2 separate regions of the Homo sapiens genome follow, and region 2 is linked to region 1. Evidence: fine-mapped expression QTL. Tissue or cell type: testis. Region 1 holds a variant in brackets; the other region holds the start of a gene. All regions are shown on one strand. Distances are from middle to middle.

The links. PIP is the estimated chance that this variant, and not a neighbour inherited with it, causes the effect.
Region 2: TMEM35A starts here. The variant in region 1 is fine-mapped to the expression of TMEM35A in testis (GTEx, PIP above 0.99).

The regions. Positions count from the first base shown.
Region 1 is chrX:100,779,754-100,787,861 of GRCh38, forward strand. No RefSeq gene overlaps it. Among named protein-coding and RNA genes, the nearest start is that of CSTF2, 37 kb to the right of the region's middle. The variant C/G (reference allele first, on the strand shown) is at 4,695.
Region 2 is chrX:101,074,877-101,082,971 of GRCh38, forward strand. TMEM35A (transmembrane protein 35A) reads left to right here and starts at 4,003. Exons shown (of 2, transcript NM_021637.3): 1 at 4,003-4,246. The coding sequence starts at 4,127.

The DNA of each region.
Region 1 (8,108 bases):
ATGAACTTTCCTCTTGGCACTGTCTTTGCTGTATCCCAGAGGTTTTGGTAGCTTGTGTCAATATTGTCATTCAGTTCGAATAATTTTTTAATTTCCATCTTGATTTTGTTTTTGACCCAATGCTCATTCAGGACCAAGTTATTTAATTTCCATGTATGTACATCATTTTGAAGGTTCCTTTTAGAGTTGATTTCGTTTTATTCCACTGTGGTCTGGGAGAGTGCTTGATATAATTTCAATTTTCTTAAATTTATTGAGGCTCGTTTTATGGCCTATTGTATGGTCTATTTTGGAGGACGTTCCATGTGCTGTTGAATAAAATGTGTATTCTGCAGTTTTGGGATGAAATGTTCTATATATATCTGTTAAGTCTATTTCTTCCAAAGTATAGTTTAAATCCATTTTTTCTTTGTTGACTTTCTGTCTTGATGATCTGTCTAGGGCTGTCAGTGGAGTATTGAAGTCCCCCACGATTATTGTGTTACTGTCTATCTCATTTCTTAGGTCTATTAATAACAGGTTTTTTTGTTTTGTTTTGTTTTGTTTTGTTTTTTTGAGATGGAGTTTTGCTCTTGTTGCCCAGGCTGGAGTGCAATGGCATGATCTCAGCTCACTGCAACCTCCGCCTCCTGGGTTCAAGCGATTCTCCTGCCTCAGCCTCCCGAGCAGCTGGGACTACAGGCATGCACCACCACACCTGGCTAATTTTGTATTTTTAGTAGAGACAAGGGTTCTCCATGTTGGTCAGGCTGGTCTTGAACTCCCGACCTCTGGTGATCTTCCCACCTCAGCCTCCCAAAGCGCTGGGATTACAGGCATGAGCCACCGTGCCCGGCCCATAGTAACTGTTTTATAAATTTGGGAGCTCCAGTGTTTAGTACATATATGTTTAGAATTGTGATATTTCCCTGTTGGACAAGGCCTTTTACCATTATATAATGCCCTCTTTTGTCTCTTTTAGCTGCTGTTGCTTTAAAATTTGTTTTGTCTGATATAAGAATAGCTACCTCTGCTCACTTTTGGTGTCTATGTGCATGAAATGCCTTTCTCCACCCCTTTACTTTATGTGAGTCCTTATGTGTTGTTAGGCCAGCATCACCCTAATATCAAAACCAGCAAAGGACATACCAAAAAAGAACATTACAGACCAATATTTTTGATGAACACAGATGCTAAAATCCTCAACAAAATACTAGCTAACCAGTTGCAACAACATACCAAAAAGATAATCCACCATGATCAAGTAAGTTTCGTACCAGGGATGCAGAAAAGCAGCAGATGGTTTGTGAGTTCTTATCTATTCTGCAATTCTGTAGAAAAGTGGAGCATTTAGGCCATTTACATTCAATGTTAGTATTGAAATTTGAGGTACCATTGCATTCATCATGCTCTTTGTTGCCTGCGTACTTTGGTTTGTTTTTTGATTTTGCTCTTTAACTTGTATTTTTGTTTTATAGGTCCTGTGTGATTTATGCTTTAAAGAGATTCTGTTTTGATGTGTTTCCAGGATTTCTTTCAAGATTTAGAGCTCCTTTAAACAGTTCTTGTAGCAGTGCCTTGGTAATGGCAAATTCTCTCAGTATTTGTTTGTCTGAAAACGACTGTATCTTTCCTTCATATGTGATGCTTAGTTTCACTGGATGCAAAATTCTTGACTGATAATTGTTTTGTTTGAGGAGGCTGAAGATAGGGCCCCAACCCCTTCTAGCTTGTAGGGTCTCTGCTGAGAAATCTGCTATTAATCTGATAGGTTTTCCTTATAGGTTACCTGGTGCTTCTGTCTCACAGCTCTTAAGATTCTTTCCTTGGTCTTAACTTTGTATAACCTGACGACAATGTGCCTAGGTGAATATCTTTTTGTATCCATCGCCCAGGCTGGAGTGCAGTGGCGCAATTTTGGCTCACTGCAACCTCTGCCTCCCAGGTTCAAGCAATTCTCCTGCCTCAGCCTCCCAAGGAGCTGGGATTACAGGCTCCTGCCACCACACCCAGCTAATTTTTTTTTTTTGTATTTTTAGTAGAGACAGGGTTTTGCCATGTTGGCCAGCCTGGTCTCAAACTCCTGACCTCAGGTGATCCACCTGCCTCGGCCTCCCAAAGTGCTAGGATTACAGGCGTGAGCCCCCGCACCCGAGCCCTGATATTAATTTTTAAATTAAAAGACTTTATTTTTAAAAGCAGTTTGAGGTTTACAGAAAAACTGAGCAGAAAGTACAGTCTCTATATACCCCCTACTCCCTGCCCCCAGTTTTCCCTGTTATTAACATTTGTGTTAATGTGGCATATTTGTTACAATCAGTGAATCAATATTGATAAATTAAAGTCCATATGTTAGTGTTCACTCTGTGTGTTATACAGTTCTATGGGTTTTGCCAAATGTATTAATATGTCATGTATCCATCATTACAGTATCATCCAGCATAATTTCACTGTCCTGAAAATGCCCTGTGCTCCACTTATTCATCTTTTCCCCACTTGCTATCACCACACCAAAGCCCTCACAACCACTTATCTTTTTAATATATCCATAGTTTTGCCTTTTGCAGAACATCATATCATTAGAATCACAATAATATGTGGCTTTTCAGACTGGTTTCTTTCACTCAGCAACATGCAGTTAAGGGTCTTCCGGGTCTTTTGTGGCTTGACAGCTCATTTCTTTTTATCACTGAATAATATTGCATTGTATAGATATACCACAGTTTTTTTTAAATTTACTCATCATTAAAGGACATCTTGATTACTTCTAATTTCTGGCAATAATGAATAAAGTTGATACAAAAACTTTTGTGTAGGATTTTGTGTGGACATATGTTTTCAACTCATTGAGGTAAATGCCTAAGGCATATTTAGTTTTGTAAGAAACTGCTAAACTATCTTCCAAAGTATCTGTACCATTTTGCATTCCCACCAGCTATGAAAGAGTTTCTGTTCTACATCTTCACAAACATTGGTGTTATCAGTGTTTTGGATTTTAGCCATTCTAATTGGTGTGGAGTGGTATCTCATTGTTGTTTTAATTTTGCAATTCCCTAATGACATATATGTTGAGCATCTTTTCATATGCATATTTACCATCTGTATATCTTCTTTGGGCATATGTCCATTCAGATCTTTTGCACATCTTTTCATTGGGTTGCTCATTTTCTTATTGAGTTTTAAGAGTTCTTCATATATTTTTGATAACAGTCCTTTATCAGATATGTCTTCTGCAAATATTTTCTCCCAGTCTTTGTCGTGTCTTTTCATTTACTTAACAGTGTCTTTCATAAAACAGAAGGTTTTAACTTTGATGAAGTCTAACTTGCCAATTTTTTCTTTCATGGATTGTGCTTTGTGTGTTGTATCTAAAAACTCATTGCCAAACACAAGGTCACCTCTATGTTCTCCTATGTTATCTTCTAGAAGCTTTGTAGTTTTCTGTTTTACATTTATAGGGGCTGTGAGAAGGTGACAGAGGTTACATGAGGTAATAAGGATAGGGCCTTAGTTGAATAAGGCTAGTGCCCTTATAAGAGGAAGAGACGCCAGTTTTCTCTCTCTCTACCATACGAAGACACAGCAAGAAAGTGGCCATCTACAAGTCAAGAAGTGGGCCATCACCAGAAACCAAATTACTGGCACCTTGATCTTAAACTTCCCAGCTTCCAAAACTGTGAGAAATAAATTTCTGCTGTTTAAGCCATGCAACCTACAGTATAAGTTATAGCAGCCCAAGCAGACTAAGACAGAACCCTTAGCATATTAATCATAGTTACTTTAAATCTCTGGTCCCATAATTCCAAAATATCTGCCACATCTGAGTCTGGTTCTAGTGCTTGCTTTGTTTCTTCAAGACTGTGGTTTTTTTTCTCTTTTTAGCATATCTTATAATTTTTCTGTTCAAAGCAAGGCATGATGTACTGGGTAAAGGGAACTGAACTGAGGTAGATAGGTGTTTAGAATGAAATTTAGAGGCAACTTAAGAAAGTACTCAAAAAACAAAATTATGGGAGCATGCTAAATGGACACAGGAGCCAGCCTGAAAGAGCTTGCAATGGACAAAGTTGGAACAATTTGAGCAACAAAATAAGTTATTCTTCCTTATAGAGGAATTCTAAATAATTTATATAGATACTTGCCTTCCAGGAAGTGGCACTTAATCCCCATCAAACCCTCATAAGTGTGGGCTGGACTTGGTAACTTCCTTCCAAAAAATAGAGTATGGAAAAGGGGTGAAGTAACTTCATAGTGGAAAAACCTGGCAAACACTACCTTGGTTAGCTGAGCAAAGCCTTGATATGGTGTGATGAGAATGGAATATTACCTTTGTGATCTTTCTCTCAAACACTTATAATCCCATTCTAATCATGAGGAAAGCGTAAGACAAATCCCAATTGAGGGACATTCTACAAAATACCTGAGGAGTACTCCTCAATAGGTCATCAAAACAAGTCTTAGAAACTGTCACAGTCAAGAAGAAACTAAGGAAAAATGACAACTAAATGCAATGTGGTATCATGGACTGGCTCCTAGAACAGAAAAAGTCAGTATATAAAAACTAAGAAAATCTGAATAAAGTATGGACTTTAGTGATAATAATGTATCAATATTGGTTTATTACTTGTAGCAAATGTACCATACTAATCTAAGATGATAATAAAAACAATAACTCTGTGTAGGGCCAAAGGGAGGGAAGTGGGCTGATACGGGAA[C/G]TCTCCGCACTATCTTAGCAACTTTTTGGCAAATCTAAAATTACTCCAAGATACTAAGCTTCTTTTTTAAAAAAAATCACAAAACCTGAAAAATTTTAAAGAAATAAAAATTTAAAAATTAAAAAGAGTCAAATCCCAGCTGTATTTTTATTAATTATGTAATATTGTACAAGTCACTCTCTGAGCTTTGGTGTCCCTGTTTATAAAAGTGATAGAATACATTTTTGAGTGACATCTGAAAGATAGCAGAGTAGGAAGCTCCAGGCCCTCCTTTCCCCATGTAATCTGTGAAAGGAAATTCAATTTCGGGACGCCAAACTCATTTAGCGAAAGGGAAAAGTCAAAGTGGGAACTGGGTCATGCAAACCTGCCTCCCACTTTTGGGTCCTCAATAAGATGGCTACAAGATGAAAAGCTACATGCCTCCGCCATATTTTGCCCACAAGGAAATTCCTAGTGAGTTGTTAAAATTTCACCGTAGCAATGCAAATTGATAGCTTATCTTTACAGGTGCAGTCGCCCCCGGCGCACTAGACATAAATGCACATCTGAGTGTTCCCCTGCCCCATTTTGTCCATGTTATCTTATGTAAAATGCATATTCCCCACATTTTTCCTCTGCCTCTTTTATGTCATCTTATTAATGCAGATTCCCTGAGCCAGACAAAGGCATGAATGACTATTTTTCCCTACCCTCCTCTTACATGAAAATTGTGTACTTCTCAGTATCGCACCCTTTCCCCTTTAAATTTTGAGCCCTCAAAATCATCTTCGGAGACAGGCATAGACCTGTCTCCTGAGTGCATCCTTAACTTTGGCAAATAAATCCCCTAAAATGATTGAGACTTGTCATTTTTCTCAATTGACATCTGGTAACCACGAAGGGATCCTGAGTGAAAGTGACCCAGCCTGCAGTAGCTCACCTCTCAGTGCTTGGCACCGGCTTGGTCACCTTATAGCCCAAACTGAGAGGACAATTTGCCAAAGTCGAGGACCTCTTTCCAGGGATCTCTGATCTTCCAACATTTTCCAGTTGGGGGTCTGAAGTTTATTTGCTGTTAAAAACAAAACAAAACAACAAAAACAACAAAAATTCCTTTTTTTGTAGGCGTTTCCACTCACTTCCATCAAGGAAGGCGAGCCTGTCTGCTTCTGCATATGCAGAGAGCAATCTTCAGCTTGGGCCCCCATCACTAGGTAAGAAACTGGTTTGGAATTCTGTCTTGCAAATTCTTTTAAACGACTAGAATTAGCACTAACAACCAGCTGGTGTTAATTTCCTGCTTACCCTTAGAGCGCTCAGAAATCATATAATTTGCGTGATCATTGTTAGTTTTGTTTAATTGTTTTGTTTCTGGGTTTGTGTGTGTGTGTGTGTGTGTGTATATATATCTGTGTGTGTGTGTGTGTGTGTGTGTGTGTGTGTGTGTATGTGTGTGTGTGTGTGTTTTGGTCCTTTCCCCTATCGGATTTGACCAATTCTGAACCTTCAAGCTCATGAGTGTGAAATTTTCCACTCTGAAGAAACAGAACACATTGCTCCCCTCAGCCCTTTGGGGCATTCTCAGGCGACTGAGAATCACATGAGGGTTTCTGGGAGAAATGCTCCCTAAGACATGCAGCAGCTCTAAATAGGTTTCCCCCTCAAAAGAACATACTTAGGGTCTAATCTCAGCCAGCAGATGCATATAAGGAACTGACCCCTCCCAAACTTTGAGCCCCTGACACACTGTGCCAGGTGGCCACAACGCTGGTGGACCAAACTGGTTCAGGGTGTAATGGCCCTGTGAAAAGCTAGGTTTGCAAGCAGCACATTTTGGGTCCAACACACATCCCAACTTGGTCAAATCCAAAGGGGAACTCTAAATTATAGAGAACAAGGCCTCTAAGACCCCAGCAGTTGCAGAATATAAAGTTCCCCTCTTAGAAACTCCAGCAGGGTATATGCAAAATACTTATGGTGAATCATCATGCAAATATTTAACCAAGCGGACCACTATAACTAAAGCAGATTCTAAGTTACAATGGCCTAAATGGGGATCTTTTGAGATGCCCAAATTAGTGTACCTGTGAACCAGGATGGAGAATGCAGACACAAAAACCAAACAACCAGAATGGGACAGCTATTTTCAGTGGTAGCTGCAAAGTAGCAAAAGTGGGGAAGACCACTGTCACGCGTGTCTGGGTGAAGTGACCACCAAACAGGCTTTGTGTGTGCAACAAGGCTGTTTATTTCACCTGGGTGCAGGTGGGCTGAGTCCGAAAAAGATGTCAGCAAAGGGAGTTAGGGGTGGGGCAGTTTTATAGGATTTGAGTAGGTAGTGTCAGGAGGCCCGACACTCCTGTCTTCTTATATTAATAAGAAAAACAAAACAAGATAGTGGCGAAGTGTTGGGGTGGCAAAAATTTTGGGGGGTGGTATAGAGAGATAATGGGCAATGTTTCTCAGGGCTGCTTCGAGCAGGATTAGGGGCAGCGTGGGAACCTAGAGTGGGAGAGATTAAGCTGAAGGAAGATTTTGTGGTAAGGGGTGATATTGTGGGGTTGTTAGAAGCAATATTTGTTGTACAGAATGATTGGTGATGGCCTGGATACAGTTTTGTATGAATTGAGAAACTAAACAGAAGACACAAGGTCCGAATAAGAGAAGGAGAAAAACAGGTATTAAAGGACTAAGAATTGGGAGGACCCAGGACATCTAATTAGAGTGCCTAAGGGGGTTCAGCGTGATTATTGCTTGGTTGGTCAGTTTTGGGGCTCTATCCTTGAGTTTTTTTATGTTGTCACATACCAGGCCAGATTGATTTAGGTGAAAACAACACTCTTCATTTAAAAATATAGAGTCCCCTTTTTTTAAGCAGTGAGTAAGCGGAAGTCTCGGTGATTTTGGAGGAAATAGAAATGCAAAGCCAGCAATTGTTTGTTAAAGAAGGATTAGAAACGGCTAGGAGAGAGTGAGATTGATAGTGTGGTGGAGATAGCTGGGGAGAGGTAGAGGGTGGCATAAGAATGGGAACGAGAATAAGAGTGAGTAAAAAAGTAAAGAATAGGACTTCATCAGGGTGAAAGTACCGGACTGTGCCTTGCCACTGAAGATCTTTTATCCACTTCAAGAGAGATTTAAGGGTGGTGGTTTGAGATAAAACCAGGAGATACCAGTTATGATGGTTTGGAGGAAAAGTGTAAACTGGGAGTGTAAACAAGGGCAGGGCATTTATGAGTAGTTGAGAATGGTGAATAGGAGTATGACTAGACAGAAGATAGTAGGGATGACAAGTTTTTGGGGTGCAGTCCAAGTTGGGCTGGTGTCTGGAATGAGACTGGGGCCTAATAAAAAGGAGTGTCCATACAGGAGCTCAAATGGGCTGTACCCTGTAGCATCCCGAGGACAGGCCCAAATTCTGAGAAGGGCAAG
Region 2 (8,095 bases), 300 kb after region 1:
AACAAGTGAGTAAAATATACTGCTGTGGACAAAATTTGGAGCATATTTGTTCCTCTCTACCTGATTTCTCCAGAATTTGGAAACTATCTGTGAGTATTCTCAATTTATGGCAGTATAGTTAATTGCATAAATTCAATAAGAATTTGTTTTCTTTTGTAACAGGACACAATTGGAGAAATTGGTTACTTTACCAAGGCTTTGACTGGAATGGCATGCTTCCTTTAAATAATCAAAGTTGACTTATAGAGCAAATTAAAGCCCATTGAGGCATCTGGCCTCATACCTTATCCACACAGAGTCCCTGTGCAAGGTTCCTGTCCTGTGGTAAGTAAAGAATGTCACTTTCTAACAGGCCCAGGAACCCCAAGTTATCTTGGGACCTCAAGAGGAGAGGAATTTGCCCAACTCATAGGTATTTGAGGGTGCAAACCCACGGCTGGGCTCGGCTTTTAAAACATCTTATCTGAGATTCTTCATGGAACAGAGTTCTAGCAAAGCCAATTAAAAAACCCTAAGTGAAAAATATTCTTGCTGCACTTTATGCAAATAATCAGGCCACATACAGTAAGACTAAAGCTTATTTTGTAAACAAATCAGTTCTATCATGTTGTTTTTAATAAAAATGGGGACTGGAGAGAGAAAAATTATGCTTCAAAAAACTATAGTACACTGTTGTTAGCTGTTCTTGAGTTTTTTTCTGCAGTTTAGACTAAATTCTAAATTGTTTGTGGGTTAGAAGTCCCCAAACTAATGCTTTCAAATCTCTGCTTTTAAAATTGGGAATTGTACTCCTCATCCTAGGACTCATTATTTACCTTATAAGGTAAAATAGGCTGTTCACTTAAACACTGTAGTAAAACTATAGATGAGAGTACTAATGTTTTTGCCATACAAGCCTTGGAAGCTCAACCAGGCCGGCATGAGTATGCTCAGACAATTAATTGTAAAGCAGTTCCACTCTTCTCACCTTGGGGTTCACTCCCAATCCCACTACATCCCCTGTCAGCAGGAAGAGGCCAGAGTGATTGATGGCCTTTTCCCATCTTCATAGCCTATACCTTAAGATTAAGGTATTATAAAACCCAAAGGGAGGGATTGAAACCGCCTTTGTAAAATTATGACTGAGAGAGTGAAAGAGATCTAACTTAGCTGACTCCATCTTGCTTCTAACCTCCAAGCTGTTCTTGTTCATTCCTGGGGGTAGGCTGAACTAACTTCGGGAGAAATGTAGTTTATAGTTTATAGTTTAAACAAATATGGTAACAGCCCTTTCCCAAAGCAGACCTCCTTCCTGCCTGGCGACTAGATTGCCTTTGTAGGACTAACATTAGCCACAAGATCAGAAATTATGGTTTAGGGGTCATGCAGCTGGAGGCTATAAGATTCTGAGCCTCCCTAAACTGCTCCAAAGATCAGTGTTTGAGATATTTTGTAGACCCTGCACTTGATAAATCAGCTGGCACCACCCAGATCAATAAACTGGCTCATGTGATCTTATGGCCCCCACCCAGGAACTGACTCAGCACAAGAAAACAGCTTTGACTCCCTATGATTTCATCCTTGACCAATCAGCACTCCTGGCTCACTGGCTTTCCCCGACCTACCAAGTTATCCTTAAAAACTCTGCTCCCCGGCCAGGCATGGTGGCTCACACCTGTAATCCCAGCACTTTGGGAGGCCGAGGCGGGCAAATCACCTGAGGTTAGGAGTTCGAGACCAGCCTGGCCAATATGGTGAAACCCTGTCTCTACTAAAAATACAAAAATTATCCAGGTGTGGTGGCATATGCCTGTAATCCCAGCTACTGGGGAGGCTGAGGCAGGAAAATCACTTGAACCCAGGAGGTGGAGGTTGCAGCAAGCCTAGATTGCACCACTGCACTCCAGCCTGAGCGACAGAGCAAGACTTTGTCTCAAAAAAGCACAACAAAACAAGCAAACAAAAAACTTTGCTCCCCAAATGGTCAGGGAGACTGATTTGAGTAATAAAACTCTGGTCTCCCGCATGTGGGCTCTGCGTGAATTACTCTTTCTCTGTTGCAATTCCCCTGTCTTGATGAATGGGCTCTGTCTAGGCAGCGGGCAAGGTGAACCCCTTGGGAGGTTACAGTTTCACCATGCTGGTCAGGCTGGTCTTGAACTCCTGACTTCAGGTGATCTGCCTGCCTCGGCCTCCCAAATTGCTGAGATTATAGGCGTGAGCCACCACGCCTGGCCATGCATCACATTTTTATTTGTAAAAGTAAAAACCATGGAAACAACATCAATATCTAGCAATAGGATGCAAAATGAATGAGAACTATAGTACATTCAAGTGATGCTAAAGTTTTATACAATCATTAAAAATGATTGTTTAGGGCTGAGCATGGTGGCTCATGCCTGTAATCCCAATGCTTTGGCAGGCCAAGGCAGGAGGATCGCTGGAGCCCAGGAGTTCAAGACCAGCCTGGTTGACATAAGGTAGCCCCATGTCTACAGAAAATAAAAAATAAATTACCCGGGTGTGGTGACACGTGCCTGTAGTCCCAGCTACTTGAGAGACTTGTAGTCCCAGCTACAAGAGAGAGCCTCTCACTTGAGCCCACGAGGTTGAGGTTGCAGAGGGAGACCCTCTGCAGGGTCTCAAAAAAAAAAAAAATCGTGTAGGGCTGGGCTCCGTGGCTCATGCCTGTAATCGCAACACTCTGGGAGGCCGAGGCGGAAGGATCCCTTGAATCCAGGAGTTAGAAATCAGCCTGGACAACATCACAAGGCTCTGACTCCACAAAAAATAAAAAAATTAGCCAGGCATGGCGGCATGTGCCTGTGATCCCAGCTACTCCGGAGGCTGAGATGGAGGATCACTTGAGTGAGACTTTGTCTCTAAACAAAACAAAACTCTGTGTGTGTGTGCGTGAGCATTTACAGTGCTAAACAACTTTAAGTACCACACTAATAGTGAAAAATATTACAGGAGAGGCAGCAGAGCAATTGTTAAGAGCCTGGGCCCTAGAAATGACTGCCTAGGTTTGAGGCCTGGCTCTCCACTTACTAGCTGTATACTCCTGGGCAAGTTACCTACCTTCCCAGCCCCTCAATGTGCCCATTCATAGCATGGGGACTCATACCTAGTCCATAGTGTTGCTGTAAAGATTAAATTAGTTAATACAAGTAGAGGGCAGCGTCTAGCATCTAGTAAACAGTTGACAATTATTGGTTATTGTTATAGAAAATTGGAGGAGGGAGAAATCATATCTAACTGACAATGGATCAGGAAAGGCTTTATAGAGGAGGTGACATTAAAGAAAAGGTTTAATGCTAATGAAGAGTGATGGTGGGGGGCGGGGTCAAAAGATAGGGAGTTAAAGGTAGAGGAGGTGGTAAGGCGTAGGTTGTGTGAGGCCGTGAGTAGATAGATGAGTGGTGGCGTGTGGCAGTGGGAGCCATTGAAAACTAAATCTCCAAAGAGAGACAGGGGTCAAAATGTGGAGGGCCTTGAATTCCAAATTTAAAACTGGAGTTAACCACTGGCTATGAGAGTCATTAAAGATTTCTGAGCAAGAGAAAGAGGAAGCCTTCTTTGGCAGCATTGAAGGCTGACAAATTTGCAGTTTTATCCTTGAGTGTTACGAACTTCAGAAACAACTCTCTGAGGGCTAATATTTTGATTTAGGAAAAGGAAAGGGGGACACAAAGGAAGAGATGGAAAAAGGGAGTGAATAACTGAAGGATGATAAGTGGGAGGGGGAGATGAAAAGTGAGCCCGGTGGGAAGGTGGCAGCAAAGCCTGTCTTCCCTAATTCCTCATTCCTGGGGTCACTTGGTGACTGAACTCATACATAACCTCCCTTCTCCCCATTTAAGATTTGAAGTTTCCGTCTTTCCTTTAGGGCTTCATTTAACTTCGAGACTGTCCTTTTGGCCTGTGAGCACACGTAGGGCATTAGGACCCAGCGTTTGTTGTAGTGAGAGTGGTTGAATCTCGATCTCTCAATTTTTCTCTCGAGCTCCCTCCTCTCCCTTTGTCATTCTAGCTGCCTGCTGCCTCCGCAGCGTCCCCCCAGCTCTCCCTGTGCTAACTGCCTGCACCTTGGACAGAGCGGGTGCGCAAATCAGAAGGATTAGTTGGGACCTGCCTTGGCGACCCCATGGCATCCCCCAGAACCGTAACTATTGTGGCCCTCTCAGTGGCCCTGGGACTCTTCTTTGTTTTCATGGGGACTATCAAGCTGACCCCCAGGCTCAGCAAGGATGCCTACAGTGAGATGGTAAGTGAAGCAAACGGGTGATGAGGAGCGCACTCCCATGGGATTGCGAGGACCTCTCCCCTTTTTTCCTTCTCAGTTTCTGGTCCCACCCCCTTAGCCCCTATCCCCACCTGGACCCTCCGTTCTCAACAACTTTGCAGCTCGGAAGGAGCAGCTGGGCAAGAGCGATTTCTTTTGTGGGCTATGCTGTTCTGGAGCCACTGAATGCCAGTTGGGGGAGGGGTTGCGCAGCGAATACCCCCCATCCCAAGTAAACCAGAAGGCTGAGACCTGCGTAGCACCTGTCATTGGCAGGAGCCCTTCCCTCCTTCCAGCACACACCCAAAGTCCGGGCAACCAGTATACAAGTCTGATTCCCTCCCTGTGAGCTAAGAGTTTAGCAAGCGGAGAGTTTATTTATTTTAGAGCAGAACAAAAGGGAAAGAGGAAAAGAGCTGGGAAAAATGGGCTACTAAAACAAGCAATTTTTAGGGGCTGACTGGTATTCCTCATCCCAGGCAGACAGCTGATAGTATTCCTCCAGCCACCTGGGTATGTATCTGGATCCTTGAGACAAAGCATTCTTGGCCCAAATAAAGGTCACTAAGCTCTTGTTTCTTCCCCTTCTCTCAAGGGAGAGCTAGATGTTTTGTTTTATTTTGTTTTGTGTGTGGGGTAATCTACAAAATCTGCAAAGTCTGCTTTTTCTCTCCCGCAAACAGTCCGTAATCCCCACCTTGCCTTCTGTGGATGACCAGAGCCAGGCCCTCTGCAGGTTTTCCCCTCTGCAGAGTTGGAATCAATCACGGAAGGTGACTGGCCAAAACATCTCCTCTGCAACCTGGGGGCTGGGCTGCTTTCCCCAGTTGGGCGTGATGAGGACTTGCTCTTATGCTGTGGAGTACTAGGAGATGGCAGGGAATGTTTCCAGCACTTTCGGGTCTGTCCCTTCTTCCCCTGTCACTTTGCCTCTTCTTTTCCCCACCCCAGCTGCTTCTCGTCGCCTTTGCCAGACTTCCAATAATGGGAAGGAGCACATCATTGGGCTCTCAAGGTCAAGAGAGAAAGGAGCTTAGGGGAGGAACAGAAGGGGAAAGAGAAAAGAGGCAAGCCCTTTTAGGGCTGAGGCAGGGAGGAACAGCCTCACACATTGCGAGGAATTCATAGCTCTCCTGAACCCACTGCAGAGCTTTCCAGGGCCCCTTAACGTGAGCTGCAAATGGATGGAGACTGGCAAATTATATTAATAGATGCTCAGAAAATGTTTGCAGGCAGCTCTGGCTTCTGTCTCAGGGTTTAAGCTGGAGCTTTCCATTTCTTCCTCACCGCAGGATCACCCTAGGGTTGGGGAGGGTGACAAGGGCTTAGGTCTAGCCCCAGTGGCAAATCCTTACATGCTTCTCCTTCTCCCTTCCCCTCCTCCCAGCATGTTTGACCAGATGGAATTGAAATCAGGTCAAAATGAGTACCCGAGGCAGCCTGCACTGGGAGAAGAGGGACAGGGTGGGGTAGCAGAAGCCACCAAATGGCTTGAAGAGGTTGGGACAGAGGGACAGGGTGGAGGGGAAATGCCATTATATTTCTGTCTTGGTGGTAGCAGTTTGGTGTTAGATTATGAATAAATGAACATGCTCTTGCTTTACTTTTCATATGTACATATATTTATATATTTGTGTGTGTGCATCATAGGTATGTGTAAGCTTTCCCTAGCCTTAGGGACACACTACCTTTCTTCAGTATACTCCCTGCCCTCCAGACCCTAGTCAGCTGCTTCAGAGGCCCCCCCAAGCTGCACCCTAAGTACAGTGTTAGGCTCTGCAGGCAATCCAACTAAGATGGAGTCACCGGGAAGCTTCCTACCAGCTTAGCAGGAGCTCACAAGGAGGACCAGCCACAAATGGGTTTACAGTATGTTTCTTCCTAGAAATGGAGCTGTCTAGTGCAGCCTAATGAAAGGCAGAAGAAACAAATATGAAGATTTCATATCATACATAGGAACATATTTAAATAGATATAGTGTAACACAGCAATATAGAACCATTGTGTGTGGGTGTGTATGCACACTTCTGCACTTCTGTGCTAGGGGCATCTAGAGGGAATGGAAAGATTGTATCTAACTGAGAAGTAGACGTCACAATAGTTTGAAGAGGATTTTCAGACTGCCCTTTTCCAGGGTCCTCTCCTGCATTGAGCATCGGGCCATAGACTGGAGATTGCTCTCTGGCATAAAGCCTACTGCATAGTGCCTGGGCTTGGCCCAGCTTTATTCTCGTTCCCATAGGAAAGGGAGGGAAATTCAGTTCTAGTACAGAGAAGGTGCTCAATATGTATTTGTGGAGTGGTTGGGTGAATGAATGAGTCATTGTAGCATTGCCTTGGCTTGTTACCACCCTTCAGATTTCTCTGTTTGGCTCTTGATTATGCAGTTCAGGAGCCATTTCTTGCCTCTTAGAGGGACTCTCTAAGAAGCCCCTGTCTCTCAGAGGCAGAGTCTCTCAGAACCCCAACCCTAGATCAGCTGGGATGATTATCTGGGATTTTTTGTTTTCCATTAAGGAGTGGATTCCTCTGCATCGAGGAGGTTAGTCATGTATTGACTGCAGTGGCATTTCTTATAAGATCTCAAAGCGTTGTTGCTGCTGTTGTTGTTTTAAGATTATTTGTTCTTTAGAACATGTCTGTGAGGTAGATTTAGTGTATTCGTTATTTTTATTTTACTGATGGATAAACTAAAGCAGAACAAGTTTAATGACATATCCAAGGCCAGAAAGGTAAGCTGTTGTTGGAGCAGAGATGAGAAACCAAGTCCATGACTCAATACTCCCAATAGAAAGATCATTAATGGTTAAAACTGTTGGTTTTTATGGATGCCAGAACTGACAACCGATTCTTGAGAACACCTGGCACAGTCTTCCTCCTTTTATTGTACCAGTTTAACTGCCCAATGCATATTTTCAATTTTGTTTTACTACAAAATCAATTTTTAAAATTTAGATTTTTGATTTGATTTCTTTTTTCTTTTTCTTTCTTTCTTTTTTTTTTTTTTTTTTTTTTTGCTTTTCTGCCAACTATTTTTTTTCTTGTTTTAAAATCATTTGTGTAATTCTTAGGTGTTATCTTCTCCAGGGAGAATCATTGCTAAAAAACCAAACAAATGACTATGAACTTTTCTCCTGTTTCTACTGGAGAAGCCAGCAAGGGTTAGTGGAAAGAGTGCAGGCTTTATGGTCACACAGGCTTGGGTTCAGGTCCTGCTACTCTTGGTGTCTCAGTTTCTTTATTCTTAAAATGGGGATAAGAATGCCTACCACTTAAGAAACAGACCATCCTAAGGGCGGGGGGTGGGGGGAAGGAGTGCCTACCTTAGAAGGCTGTAAACATTAACTGAGATTATGTATAAAAGTGTCTGGTACAGTGTTTGCTATAGTATGTGTTCAAGAAATGCTTTGGGTGAGGTGATTATGATAAGTAATTCTGTTTTATGGAGTGGTTTCCTAACTGATTTAAATAGCTAGTTTAAGGGATTGAAATCAAGCATATATATATATTTATTTATTTATGAGACGGAGTTTTGCTCTTGTTGCCCAGGCTGGAGTGCAATGGTATGATCTTGGGTCACTGCAACCTCTGCCTCCCGGGTTCAAGCGATTCTCCTGCCTCAGCCTCCGGAGTAGCTGGGATTACAGGTGCGTGCCACCATGCCTGCCTAATTTTTGTATTTTTAGTAGAGATGGGGTTTCACTGTGTTGGTCAGTCTGGTTGCGAACTCCTGACCTCAGGTGATCCACCCATCTCAGCCTCCCAAAGTGCTGGGATTACAGGTGTGAGCCACCACCCCCAGCCTGAAATCAAGCATTTAGAAGAACAAGA